Linked DNA regions of Homo sapiens. The protein of the gene in region 1 purifies or fractionates together with the protein of each later gene. This does not show direct contact. Each region holds a gene or a part of one and is shown on either strand. Other genes may lie near its edges.

What was found. Proteins that work in one complex are often made in the same cells at the same time.
Region 2: the proteins of SLC22A8 (region 1) and MTX3 purify together in Homo sapiens (affinity purification with mass spectrometry; one large-scale study listed by BioGRID and IntAct). This does not show direct contact.
Region 3: the proteins of SLC22A8 (region 1) and ATL3 purify together in Homo sapiens (affinity purification with mass spectrometry; one large-scale study listed by BioGRID and IntAct). This does not show direct contact.
Region 4: the proteins of SLC22A8 (region 1) and NDFIP1 purify together in Homo sapiens (affinity purification with mass spectrometry; one large-scale study listed by BioGRID and IntAct). This does not show direct contact.

Annotation. Positions count from the first base shown.
Region 1 is NC_000011.10:62,998,842-63,002,341, forward strand, and holds part of SLC22A8 (organic anion transporter 3), read right to left. Parts: intron 2,872-3,500; exon of another isoform or gene 2,206-2,871; coding exon of another isoform or gene 2,101-2,205; intron 1,983-2,100; coding exon 1,879-1,982; intron 1,002-1,878; coding exon 847-1,001; intron 249-846; coding exon 80-248; intron 1-79. UniProt on the Homo sapiens protein: Functions as an organic anion/dicarboxylate exchanger that couples organic anion uptake indirectly to the sodium gradient.
Region 2 is NC_000005.10:79,984,763-79,988,262, reverse strand, and holds part of MTX3 (metaxin-3), read left to right. Parts: coding exon 1-24; intron 25-1,155; coding exon 1,156-1,313; intron 1,314-2,603; coding exon 2,604-2,692; intron 2,693-3,500.
Region 3 is NC_000011.10:63,626,377-63,629,876, forward strand, and holds part of ATL3 (atlastin-3), read right to left. Parts: intron 3,030-3,500; coding exon 2,943-3,029; 3' UTR 1-2,942. UniProt on the Homo sapiens protein: Atlastin-3 (ATL3) is a membrane-anchored GTPase that mediates the GTP-dependent fusion of endoplasmic reticulum (ER) membranes, maintaining the continuous ER network. It facilitates the formation of three-way junctions where ER tubules intersect.
Region 4 is NC_000005.10:142,146,779-142,150,278, reverse strand, and holds part of NDFIP1 (NEDD4 family-interacting protein 1), read right to left. Parts: intron 1-3,500. UniProt on the Homo sapiens protein: Activates HECT domain-containing E3 ubiquitin-protein ligases, including NEDD4 and ITCH, and consequently modulates the stability of their targets. As a result, controls many cellular processes.

The sequences.
Region 1 (3,500 bases):
CCAGCCTGGGCAGGTATGGGCTCCCCTGTTTGGCCCTGGGGCACCTAAGGAAACAGATGAAGAGGAGAGGGCCACATACCAGGATGATAGGAAGAAGACGAAGAAGGGAATGGACACAGTTAACTGCAGCCAACGCCACTGGGGGATGGCGTAGGCCAGGCCGGGCAGAATGAACTGGCCAAAGGTGTAGCAGTACCCGAGTGCTGTCGACATGATGGCCCGCATCCGGGTAGGCACCCATTCCACATCTGTGGGAGGAGTCCAAGCACCAGATTAGTGTTCTGCTAGGTCCCAGGCACCTCCGCGTGAAGGGGCACCAGCTTCTGCATCCCCACGGCTACTGACATCCTCCCCACGGATGCTGTTGATATCGCCCTCCGTTGGGTCTTCCTGCTGTTCTGATGCTGACCCTAAGTTCATCATCCCCATTTTACAGATGCCACAGCTGAGGCTCAAGGCGATAGGACTCAAACCTAGGTGTGTCTGTTTCCAAACTCATGCTCTTAACCACTGCTTCTCCAGTGGCAAGTGACTTTCCTTGTTCTGCCTCAGTTTCCTGATCTGTAAAATGGGAATAATAGTGTCACTTACTTGCAAGTGGTATTGAATGAGATTGTGTACCTAGCAGAGTGTCAGGTCCAGGGTAAGTCCTCAGTATTGACAGCTGCTATTACTATGCTTGTTGTCATTTTTAAATTTAAGTGAGGCCTCTGAGGTCCTGAGAGGGGGTGGCACCTTGACCAAGGTCACAGGGAGCCTGTGGTTGAGCCAGACCCAGACCCCATTCTCTTTTGGCTTCTGGATGGTGCTCCCCAAAGCCCAGCTCCATGCCCCACTGCAGCTCACTCAAGATGACGGTGCTCAGGGTAATGCCTGAGATGCCAAAGCCACACAGGAAGCGGAAGACCATGTAGATGGGGAAGGTGGGGCTGAAGGCTGCACCGGAGCCGCTGGCTGCCAGCAGCAGGTAGCTGCAGGTCAGGATGGGCCTGCGGCCAAACCTGTAGCTCGAAGGAGAGGAGGGGCCAGGTTAGCCACAGTGTGCCTGCCAAGAGGAGTGACTCTGCATGCTGTGGGGCAAAGGGCTGAATCCGACCCCCAACCTTTCCCTGTTGGGCACATAAAGCTCCCTCCCCAGACACAGCTTTCTTGGTAATTGCTATTTTTGACAAGTTTGCAATTAGAGGTTTGAGTTAATGAGTGATCTCCTCTACATCCGCCTCAGCTTAGCTGACTGAGCAGGGGTCAAAGGACCGCCCATCTCTAAGCAGTCCATCTCCTCTGCCTCCACTGCTACACAGCCACTACGCTGTGTCCCAAAACCTGGAGGTTTTTTCCCCTGGAAGAAGGGAAGGCTGGAGGCCAGACACGGTGGTTCATGCCTGTAATCCCGGCACTTTGGGAGGCCAAGATGGGAGGGTCACTTGAGGTCAGGAGTTTGAGACCAGCCTGACCAACATGGTGAAACCTCGTCTCTACTAAAAATACAAAAATTAGCCAGGCGTGGTGACACACGCCTGTAATCCCAGCTACTCGGGTGGCTGAGGCAGGAGAATCACTTGAATCCGGGAGGTGGAGGTTGCAGTGAGCTGAGATTGTGCCATCGCACTCCAGCCTGGGCAATAAGAGTGAGACTCCGTCTTAAGAGAAAAAAAAAAAAAAAAAAAAGGAAGGCTGGAAGATTCCAGTTGTAAGGGCTTTGGGGTGGAGAGAAGGCTGTGGTCCAGAAAGGTAGTGAGGTTTGCCCAAGGCCACACAGCAAGAGCCATCCCACCCTCCCCCAGCTCTTTGCCTCTTTGCGGGTGCACGGGTGGAGCAGAGTAGGGAAGGGTTGTCCCCATGGGTCATGCTTCCATGGGCTGTGCCCCCATGTCTCACCTGTCAGACAGGTCTCCAAGCACGAGCCCTCCAATCAGTATACCTGCCATGAAGATAGACTGGGCCATCTCCTTCAGTTTGTTGGAGTTGCACACCAAGTCCCACTGCACAAGAGAAAGGTAGGGCTAGCCTAACTCAGTGTAGACAGCCTGCTCAGCCATGCTCAGCCTGTGGCCTCATACATGTGGGCTTCCTCTCCCAGCGCCCTGACTTTGCCCCTACCTCCCAAGGACCGTTTCCTTTTTCAGCCCGGCTCGGAGCTCCTTGGGTTTGTCTGTGGCTCTTCGGCCCCTGACCTGCATCCCTCAGGCATGTGTGGCCTGTCATATGGCTCTCAAAGTCCACTCAGCTACCACATCCAGGTCTGGCCTCAACTGCTTCCTCCTCTCCAAGTTGCCTGCTTCCCTGTTTGCCTCCTCCCTGCCCCTCACATAGCCCAGGCCAGTCCCTCTGCGTACCCCCTTGACCTTGCCTTCTCTCCTCTACAGGGACGTTCCTCTATCCTTGCCACCTCTCTTCATCCTGCAGATCCAGTCTCTCTCTCTCTCTGCTCCTCCTCATCAGTATTTAGGTGTGTCCAAATCTCTCCATCTTAAAACCTCTTTCCTTTCCTCATTCACTCCATTTCTCTCTTCCCTTCAAAGCCAAATCCTTTGAACGAGGAGCTGTACTTGCTGTCACTCCATCCTCATCTCCTTTTCATGTCTCACTTCTGCCCCCAACCCATCCACTGAATCTGTGCTTATCAAGGTCACTGAAGTTTCATTTTTACGGCGCACAATGGAACGTCCCTAATCCTGGCCTGGCTTGCCCTCTGGCAGATGTGGATGCTGCTGATCTCGCCCTCCGTCAGGCTTCCTGCTGTTCTGCACTCCTCGTCTCCTTCACAGCTCGTTTCTCTCTGCCTAGTCCTTGAAGCTTTCCCAGGGCTCTTCCTGAATCCTCCTCTCTCTCCACTTTCCCCAGGCGATGCCATCTGTTCCTGCGGCTTCAATTCCTATTTTATACTGAAGATTCCAAATCTACAACTCCAGCCCAACCTATCTTCTGACCCACAGAGGAGTAGATTCAGTGGTCCCACTTGAGAACTCTGCCTGGATAGAGTCACAGGCACATCCCAGATTCAATGGGACTTATCACCCCACTTCTCATTAAAGTCCCAATCTCAGGGACTGGTAACCTTCTCTTTTTAATTAATTAATTAATTAAATTAATTTTTTTTTGAGACAGGGTCTCACTCTGTCACCCAGGCTGACTACAGTGGCATGATCATGGCTCAATGAAGCCTCAGTCTCCTGGGCTAAAGCCATCCTCCTAAGTAACTGGGACTACAGGTGTGCATGACCACACCTGGCTAATTTTGGATTTTGTATATAGACAGGAGCTCACTATGTTGCCCAGGCTGGTCTCTAACTCCTGGCCTCAAGTGATCTGCCTGTCTTGGCCTCCCAAAATACTGGAATTACAGATGTGAGTCACCACATCCAGCCTCTTTTTTATTTTTATTTAAAAAAAATTATATCATTTTTAATTGGCAAATCATAATTATATTACATATATGAAAACAATGTGGTGTTTTGATATATGTATGCAATGTGAAGTGATTAAATCAAGCTAATTAA
Region 2 (3,500 bases), on another chromosome or scaffold:
ATCTCAGTTTTTCTTTGGAGATACGTGAGTATTCCCTTAAAAATCATTTTGGTATTTTGTGCACATATATTCAGTGAGCAGCTATTTAAAGCAAGTCCTCTTATCTCCCCAAAAGATGAGTTTTTTACTTAAAAAAAACAAGATTTAGGCCGGTGTGGTGGCTCATACCTGTAATCACAGCACTTTGGGAGGCCGAGTTGGGCAGATCACCCGAGGCCAGAAGTTCAAGACCAACCTGCCCAACATGGCGAAACCCCATCTCTACTAAAAATACAAAAAATTAGCTGCGTGTGGTGGTGGGCACCTGTAATCCCAGCTACTTGGGAGGCTGAGGCAGGAGAATCGCTTGAACCTGGGAGGTGGAGGTTGCAGTGAGCTGAGATCACGCCACTGCACTCCAGCCTGGGTGACAAGAGTGAAACTCCATGTCAAAAAACCAAAACAAACAAGAAAAAAATTTAATGGGCTTTTATTATAGGAAACTTTTTCTACCAGTGATAATCTAACATTGACTTAATAGGCTGCATATGTGAATTTAAAACATCTCAGACTGTTCCCACTCTGCCTCCAGTCTAACATTTGTGAGTAAAAATGAATCTATAAAGACAATTTCATTTTCTCCTAGAGTCTAAGCTACTCAATGAGTAAAACCTTGGTTGCATAATTTTTGTAAACTGAAATGGATAGTAAACCTTTTAAGAGACTATACTGTGTAATTCAGAATTGAGAATTTTGAAAAAAAAATTAAACACCATCCCAAGTTAGTATTTTCTTATGTGCTTAAAAAAATCCTTAATTTAATTTTTTTTTTTTTTTTTTTTTGAGATGGAGTCTTGCTCTTGTTGCCCAGGCTAGAGTGCAGTGGCATGATCTTGGCTCATTGCAACCTCCGCCTCCTGGGTTCAAGCAATTCTCCTGCCTCAACCTCCCAAGTAGCTGGGTTTACAGGTGCCCACCACCACGCCCGACTTCTTTTGTATTTTTAGTAGAGACAGGGTTTCACCATGTTGGCCAGGCTTATCTGGAACTCCTGACCTCAAGTGATCTGCCCCCGCTTGATCTCCCAAAGTACTGGGATTACAGGCATGAGCCACCACACCCGGCCTTCAGTTAATATTGTCTTATGTGCTTTAAAAATCCTTAATTTATTTCTAGGCCTTCTACCTTGGATGCCTATGTTTTTGGTTTTCTTGCACCTCTTTACAAAGTACGGTTTCCTAAAGTTCAGCTACAAGAACATCTGAAACAGCTCTCCAACCTCTGTCGCTTTTGTGATGACATCCTGAGCAGTTATTTTAGGCTTAGTCTTGGAGGTAAGCTGGCTCTTTTTCAGCTAATGTTTGTTTGCATATTCTCCTATGTATGTATAAGCAAAATCCACTACTTATTTTAATTTTAGAAGTTTGTGTATTGTCTTTAAATAGTGGTTTATAGCACTTCAAGGATTTGTGTTTTTCCGACTTCATTTTTATTCTCATGTTAGTTCTTATTTAAATAGATAAATAGATATTTGCCTTTTATCTATTCCGCTGGATTTTTACGTTTCTTCTTCTTGTTCTTTAAATATTACCCCTTTGAAGTGGGTCATTTTCTTCTAAAAGGTTAAAACCACAGGTATTAAGTCTTTGCTGAAAAACAGTATTTATCCTAATGCAAATGGACAATTACTTTAAATGATTTTTACCTGCTGCTTCTAGCATTTTCCTGCATGAACAGAAATCAGCAGCAGATTGATTTTGGTGAGGTACACTGCCATGATTCCACTACTTGAAAACTGATTGCATCAGAATGGAAGTATAGTAAATAGAGGGCACCTGTTACTTAGGATGTGCTTCATTGAGAGAGTGGAGCCTTGTGCTTAAGTGATTCAGATACTAAATTTCTATTGGGATGGTTGGCTGAAATTGTCCTTTTAAGAAACAGGTTATAAAGATAGCTGGCTTAGGTGGACAGTTTATTATTTTTTGGTGGGTTATGTATTCTGTATACAGGAAGGGGTTAGTAGTTTGGGAGTCATGAAATTAAGTAATGTTCAACCGTGTTAACTTGGGAGCAGTGGTTAGCAAACCTGATTATTTGACAGATAAAAAATCTTGGGTCCTATTCCAGACTTACTAAATTAGAATCTTTTAGGCATCAATCCTAGGAATTTGTATTTTTAAGTTCTTCTGAATACTTTGGATGTCTGGTGGGCAACTTTTTGGGAGTTACTGCCTTAGAAAACTATCCAGATAGTTGTGACCAAAGACCTATTTGAAATGGGTGTGAGAAAGGAATAGCTTAAACTTGAGAAGGAAATGAGGACTACTGTGCTTTTTTTTTCAAAAAAAAAAAAAAACTAATTATTGTGGCCAATTGCAGAACACTTGGTTAGCAGTGTCTACTTAGTGGATAAATTTTTGTCCGTTTTGCTCAGGGTTTAGTTTTAGAGCATTCGAATCCCTCTCTTCGCCTTTAAACCCAGAATGGTTTTCCTCTTTGCCTTTTTTGGGGAGGGTGGGGCACTGGACAGGGTGGGTAGACTCAAAATTCTTTCAATCTAAATAGCTTTAAAGGCTTTAAAAATTTCCTGTCTTTCTCTGATTTCTGTCCTGGCTTCTTAGGCATCTCTCCAGCTGGACAAGAAACGGTAGATGCAAATCTGCAGAAACTCACACAACTTGTAAATAAGGAATCCAACTTGATTGAAAAGGTCAAGTCTACTTCAATCATTTTATCATAGTTCAGTATTTTCCTTTCGGTAGCTAATATTGTCATTTGGGTCACACATTAACTGTACCCTTTTAGTTTTTTTTATAGAGTTTGTTTTTCAGAAAACTGTTTAAATATACTTTCACTAAAGTTGTATGTAACATAGTGTTTTGAAGCCAACAGTGGCCTGATTGGGGAAAGATCAGATAAGAGTATTGGGTTTACTTTTGCCACACAGTTAGTACCCTTTAAGCTAGGAAATCCAAAAGATTTGCTTTAAAAAAACAAAGCGGCCGGGCGCGGTGGGTCACTCCTGTAATCCCAGCTCTTTGGGAGGCCGAGGCGGGCAGATCATGAGGTCATGAGATCGAGACCATCCTGGCTTATACGGCGAAACCCCGTCTCTACTAAAAATACAAAAAATTAGCCGGGCATGGTGGCGGGCGCCTGTAGTCCCAGCTACTCAGGAGGCTGAGGCAGGAGAATGGCATGAACCCGGGAGGCGGAGCTTGCAGTGAGCTGAGATCGTGCCACTGCACTCCAGCCTGGGCAACGGAGCGAGACTCCATCAGAAAAAACACAAAAAAAAACAAAGCAAAAACACTTCTTGCTTGTGTGTCTGCCTCTCTGTCTCTTAATGTTTCTTAAGATTGTAAGCACTGGGCTTATCCTTTCTTATTAACAGCACCGTGTTCTTTTCTTCTTTCCACATGAAAGTTTTATTTTTTTCTCCTTCTTGTTCTTCTCTGCTCTAGATATAGTTTATAGTTTTTTCACCAGTGTAGATATTTTGCCACTTGGGGTGTTCT
Region 3 (3,500 bases), 630 kb from region 1:
CTCAAAAAATAAAATAAAATAAAACAAGGCATGACTCTGAAGGTGTTTTATCATACATAGTAGTTTGTCTCATTTTATCTATGAGCCAATCTTACAGAAAGATTTCTCAAAGAATGAAAACTCTGATTCTACCATTTTTACTATAAGCAGCTCATTGAAATTATTTTTTCAAATTATCAACACTTAATTTATCCTGAAATATTTTAATAGAAAATTTTGGAAGCCTCCTTTTATATATTCATAGGAATGAGTTCCATATATTGTTAGGATTGTGTAAAATTAAAAATGCCTGCATGGAAAGCGGCAGAGCAACAGACACGACGCAAACAGGCACAGTCTGAGCATCTGAACCACAAGTAAAAGGTGAGAGAAGTAAAAGATATTATTTTTAACCTGGTTATAAATCTCCCCAGGATGATTTATAGCCAGTAATGATAATGCATCTTTTATTGAAAAAGCTGATATAAAATCATCAATTTACTGTTGAGAGAAAAGAGGCCAAAGAAAACTCTTAAGAACCCTCACTGAGAAAACTTTATAAAACACTTTCCAGAAGCAGAACTAAGAAAAAAAAAAAATGGTGAAGAGGACTTCCTCTGGATAATTAAACCAAGGTCTCTTTATAAGACCAAAACAGAAATGGTGAATTTAAATAGTAACTGAATCTTAAGATTTCATTAAATCATACATTATCACTTTTTTTAAAGTGACCTAATACTTTAGTATGAGTTTTCGACACATCACCCCTTCTTACCATTAAATTTTTTAAGTTATTCTGAAATCTATAAATTTACTTATAGAATGTATTAAAAGCTAAGTATGTCAATATTTACAGAGCCTGCTAATAGGTATGAACTTTCAGAGAGATAAGAGGTCACCTGAAAATGCACCAACATTTCAGAAGCAAGCTTTCAAGTTAACAGTCAAAGCTTGGTTGGCATCACTGATAAATGCAAGTAAACAAGCTGGAATTTTTCTAAAGTGTAACAGCAGTGAATAAAATAGCAAGAACTATTTGCAAGATGGCATATAAATATGAAACAATATGCTGCGAATTTAGGACTTACAAAAATACTTCAGTGGTAAAGTGTCAAAAGAAAATTCTTTGATAAAGAGATTACATGCGAAAAGGGACTTTTTTTCTACCTTCCATTCATACTTCATGTATGTAAAGTTTACACTCAGATCTTACCTTCATGTATATAAAATTTACACTCTTACCTCCCTCCCATAACAAAAGTTAAATTATCTTAGAAATTAAGGCTTATATACCTGAATGTTTATATAAATACTTGCAGGCAAGTTTTAAGTTTTAAAATCCACAATAATTCCAAAAGGAAAAGCAACTAACAGATAAAACTTTTATCTCCTAATCAAGGTAAATAGAAAAAAAGAACTCTTAGATACTTCTAGATATTTTTTATATTTGGGTAGGACTTTGATCCTTGCTAAGGCAAAGCTATCTTAAAGCTACCAGACTAGCCAAAGTAAAATTAAATAGATAATTCACTAAATAAAATGGGTTAATTTTAGCTTCATTATTAAGAACATTAGACACGGCAGAGAATGCAAATTAACATTCTGAATAAAGACCTTAAATCAGGTTATTAATTGCTGCTAAGCCACATGAAATTAGACATCAATTAAACGCAGTAATATTTGTATCTTCCCTCTAATCCTTAATAAAGTTCTGTTCTTATGCAGAACTCTCAAAAACAAAACCCCTCAAATGACAATTACAAGAGTTGTGTAAAACATACATACATATGTAAACCTACAGTGAACCTGACCAAGGCACAAGTTCAAGTGACTTATCAGAGGTCACATGGTTCATTTAAACTTAGCTTTTTTCTTGAAGTATCTAGCGCATTCCTTTTATTATGAGCCACTCTGGCTTTTCAAGGCACGTTTGCCTCTTTTTCTAGAAAGAAGCTATAGGGACCAAAAAAAAAAAAAAAATAGAGCAAGTTGCAACAAAACTGTCAGCCTACTGGGTAAAAACCTCACATTTCAGAGTATGGTATATTTAAATATGACATGATTTTTCCACACTATGTGGCAACAGGATTCCCTATTGTAAATTTTTTTTGAGTGTAATGACATCATTTTCAGTTAGTCTTTAGTTCTGAAGTTTCTCCAAGTTCTGTAAACTTTTAAAAAAGGAATCCTTCTTGGCCGGGCACGGTGGCTCACGCCTGTAATCCCAGCACTTTGGGAGGCCAAGGCGGGCAGGCGGATCACAAGGTCAAGAGACCAAGACCATCCTGGCCAACATGGTGAAACCCCATCTCTACTAAAAATACAAAAAAATTAGCTGGGTATGGTGGCGTACACCTGTAGTCCCAGCTACTTGGGAGGCTGAGGCAGGAGAACTGCTTGAACCCGGCAGGCAGAGGTTGCAGTGAGCCAAGATCACACCACTGCACTCAAGCCTGGTGACAGAGCGAGACTCCAACTCAAAAAAAAAAAAAAAAAAAAAAAGAATCCTTCTCAAAAGAGTAAAGTATAAAAGAAATGTCAAGTTTCACCCGAAAACGGCACCTTTCATGAGGTTATCCTCCATCCCCTCCCCATCGTGTGTGCAAAACCATGGAATCAATCTTAAAAGGCACTAAGTGGCACATAAAGAACTTAAAAGCTGCATTTCCATTTTTCCTCTAGCTTCCTCCTCCATAAAGTGCACAAAGCAGAGTAATATGAAAATAGACACAGGCTTGCATCTATAACAGCAAGGAAAAGAAATGCTTCCAAGAGAAATGGAAGTGTGTTTAATAATTTGAAACCACAGGAGAGGTCTGCTCATTTATTACAGGGCCATGTTTTAGCTCTTCCTGGATCGTCTCAGATCTGCCATTCCTCTGGATATGAACCTGTGGCCGTGGCAGAAACCCAGAAATCAGTAGGGGCTTGTTGTGTTCTTGTTTGATCTTCACGTTAAGATGCTATTGAGCTTTTTTATCCATGGATGGTCTTCCAACAACTGCATCCCTCACAGTGGCCTGAGTGGAATTACCGATATGAGAAGAAGCCTGCAAAAGTCCATTTATTCAACATATAAGTTAATAAAATACAACACAGCAACAAGAAAGTAAGTCCTTAAACTTTCAAAAACCTGTCTCCATCATCGGCATGTTACAGAAAGCAGTTGAATGAAAATGCAGGGATACAGAGAGGCTGTGGCAGCAGCTAACTCCCAAGAGAGCCAGGGGAACATCTGCTCTGTGGCTAGGGTAGGATAGGCAGCTCCTGTGGCTTCACAAGCTGCTAACCCAACTCACCTGTTCATGTTACTCAGAAAAACAAATGTATCATCTCAAAGATCTACAAAACTTGTGACCATGTCAATGTCCAAGAGCTACTGGGTTAGTCAGGTGTGGTGGCACTCGCCTGTAACACCGGCTGCTTGGGAGGCTGAGGTGGGAGGATCACTTGAGCCCAGGAGTTTTAAGTTACAATGAGCTAAGATACCAGCCTGGGTGACAAAGCAAGACCTCGTCTCC
Region 4 (3,500 bases), on another chromosome or scaffold:
GAATATTAAATGAATGTTTTTGCAATGAGGCCAGACTCATTATAAACATAAATAATTTGTTTTATCAGTTTCTATATATTTTTTTTTTTTTTTTTTTTGAGACGGAGTCCCGCTCTATCACCCAGGCTGGAGTGCAGTGGCACAATTTCGGCTCACTGCAAGCTCCGCCCCCCGGGTTCATGCTGTTCTCCTGCCTCAGCCTCCCGAGTAGCTGGGACTACAGGCGCCCGCCACCACACCCAGCTGATTTTTTGTATTTTTAGTAGAGACGGGGTTTCACTGTGTTAGCCAGGATGGTCTTGATCTCCTGACCTCGTGATCTGCCCGCCTTGGCTTCCCAAAGTGCTGGGATTACAGGCGTGAGCCACCATGCCTGGCCCAGTTTCTTTTAATAGATGAAAACTGATGAAACAGTGACTAGTAGGTCAAAACAGAGTTTGCAAGAATATACAATATGGTACGGACAATTACCTGGCCACTTCCTTAGTTTATGATGCTTTAGCATAGGTAAACAGCTTTAATAGATCCCTCAAAGTCAAAGCCTGACACCCAACAAACATTAAAAATCCCTTTGCTTGTTCAGTAAGAGAAGTAAAAATTAAATTAAAATAAAATATCTCAAGAGGACCTAGAGAGGTCACCAGTGGGTAATCTCAATCACCACACAATCTCCAAATGAAAGACTGCTAGAGGGCACTGCTGTCTGAGACTTGGAGGCTTGAGTGGCAGTGTTACAGAAATGCTGGCAGTACACAAACTGAAGAACAAACAGATCTTAGGGACTCTGGACCGTATTACTAAATTATAGATCAGATCACTTTGTAAAAAAAAAAAAAAAAAAAAAGGAATCCAATAGCCTACAGATCATTTAATTCCAAGAGGAAGACAACCAGTTCTTCTTGGAGACATGTAAATTTTGTTTAGCAAAAATTCTACTGGAAACACCATTTCCCTATTATCTTGCTATCTTATAACATAGTCCAATAAGTAAACCTTTACCTTGAGATGAATTTCCTTTAATAAAATAAAAGAAGTATTAAGGAACAGGAGAAAAATTACAGAAAAGGAGAAATGAAAGTGTCTGTTATCACATGGAAAAAAATTAAAATATTTGATGCCTAATAGGTACAGCTCACTAGGTCACTTTTTTAATTATGAAGGCCCTAGCTCATTAATGCTAGGGCTCAAAAACCTCCTTTTTTCCTTCTATTTCAGATGCAGTTAAAATAAATAATTTTAAAATATATTATGCTTCATATGTACAAGTGCTTTTGGTACCACACAAATAGTGTTAGATATAACCAATCAACTGTGTTACCACCTTATTACTGTAGCTAACTCCTCATTCACCTGGCAGCATCAGAGGAGGTGGTAATCCATAAAAATGTATTTTCCAGTGAACTGGTAAATAAGAAAAGTATAAACACTTTACATTTTTTACCATTTCAGGTACAGATGTTTATAACAGGTATCTGTTTCTTCTGCTTCCTCAGTCACATACTTTTTTTTTTTTTTTTTTTTTTTTTTTGAGACAGAGTCTCGCTCTGTCGCCCAGGCTGGAGTGCAGTGGTGTGATCTTGGCTCACTGCAACCTCCACCTCCTGGGTTCAAGCGATTCTTCTGCCTCAGCCTCCCAAGTAGCTGGGATTACAGGTGCACACCACCACACCCAGATAATTTTTGTATCTTTAGTAGAGACGGGGTTTTGTCATGTTGCCCAGGCTGGTCTCAAACTTCTAACCTCAGGTGACCTGCCCACCTCGGCCTCCCAAAGTGCTGGGATTACAGGCGTGAGCCACTGCGCCCGGCCCAGTCACATACTTCTTGATGGCCACTGTGCACACCTTTAGCAGTTCCTTCTGGCATTTTGTTATGAAGTAGGAAAACAGATAACAGCTTATTAATACATTTTTCCCTCCCTTAAGCTTAAATGGACTCTGAAAAGGAACCTGAGAGCTGCCCCTATGATAGTAGTACATGAGCTTTAATGTTTAGCTTTTGTAATATCTACTTTGACTGATTAGAAGGAGGTGTTTTGGGATCACTTCAAGATTGGTTTATTTGTACTATATTTCAGGTAGCCTGACTAGAAAAGTCACTATTCTTATGCCCTTTTCTAGTAAAATGCCAAATCTTAGTACAATATGGAAAGTATATTATTTTTCTGTTTTGGTAAAGTTATTTTAAAAATTCTGTATCTGTATCTTTCTGGCAAAGTTATTTTAAAAATTCCCTACCTGTGTCTTTCTTCAGCTACCTTTTAATTGGTGACATCTCCATCAAAGAAGTAGAAGTCCATAAAAGAAAATAAAGCTTTTGGGAACACTGACCCCATTTTCTAAAGTTTGTGTTCTCTGATTGGCCATTCCCAGCTTTCTACTTGCATAAACTCTGTATTCTGATCCTTTTGATGGCTTCAGGTTGACAATGTCAAGAGAGGCAATTTAGCAGAGTAGTCACTAGTTTACCAGTGATTTTCCTCAGCAGGAGTTAGCCTAGGATTTTTAAACTACATTTTCCCTCTCCCCTATCCCTATCTCCCTAGAAGAATCACTGTACATGACAGTTAGAAATAAGATCAAATTTATCCTTTAGTAATTTGACTGCCTGCTAGGCAAAAACTCAACAACCTTCTGACAAAATTCAGAGCTCATAATCTCTACAACATGATAATTAACAATGCTGCAACAAAGAAATAACTGGCCAGGTGTGTAAAAACAGGAAAATGTAACCCAGAGTCAAGAGAAAAATCCATCAATACAAATAGACTTATCTAACCTGATGTTGGAATTAGCAGATAATTACTTTTTAAAAACTGTGATAAGCATAATAAAGAATCGATAGGGAGGAAAAAAATAAAGCTTTCTTACTTCACATGACGGTTTTCTAGTATGTCTTCTAACAAAATTAAACTAAATGTCCTCTGAACTAGAGAAAGAAGGGATTCTACATCTGGATCTGGACAGAGTTCTTACCCTTTCAGTGGACAAAGGGAACTCAGTCCCATAGGATATTATGGCTTTTCAGGTTCCCTCTGGGGATCCCTGGAAAATTAGTGAAGTCATTAGAATTCTAAATTCTGCTGTAAGTTCCTCAAACCCTTAATTTAGAGCTCTGAATTCTCTGGGTGTGTCAGGAATGATTTCAAATAAACCAGGGTATCACAGTTAAATAGAAAAGCAAATAAACTCTATTATGCCCTCCAATGGTGTGCATTCATTTACCTCTGAGAAAGTTTCTGACAACTCTTAACGTACACTCCTGAAGCACCAGCAGGCTCAACACTTGAATCTCCCTTAGTACTTCCTACAACATTATTATTACTAAGGACTGCCTACTTCAAATCACAACCCCACATACATAGTTTTAAATTTAGAATATCAAAAAACATTTCAGAAATTTTAGAAAATCCAAACAATAACAACAAAATTTTCAGTAAAGCACCAAACAACACAGGAAAACTGAGACGTTCAGGCTTTCTGTCAACTGGGCTGCTATTT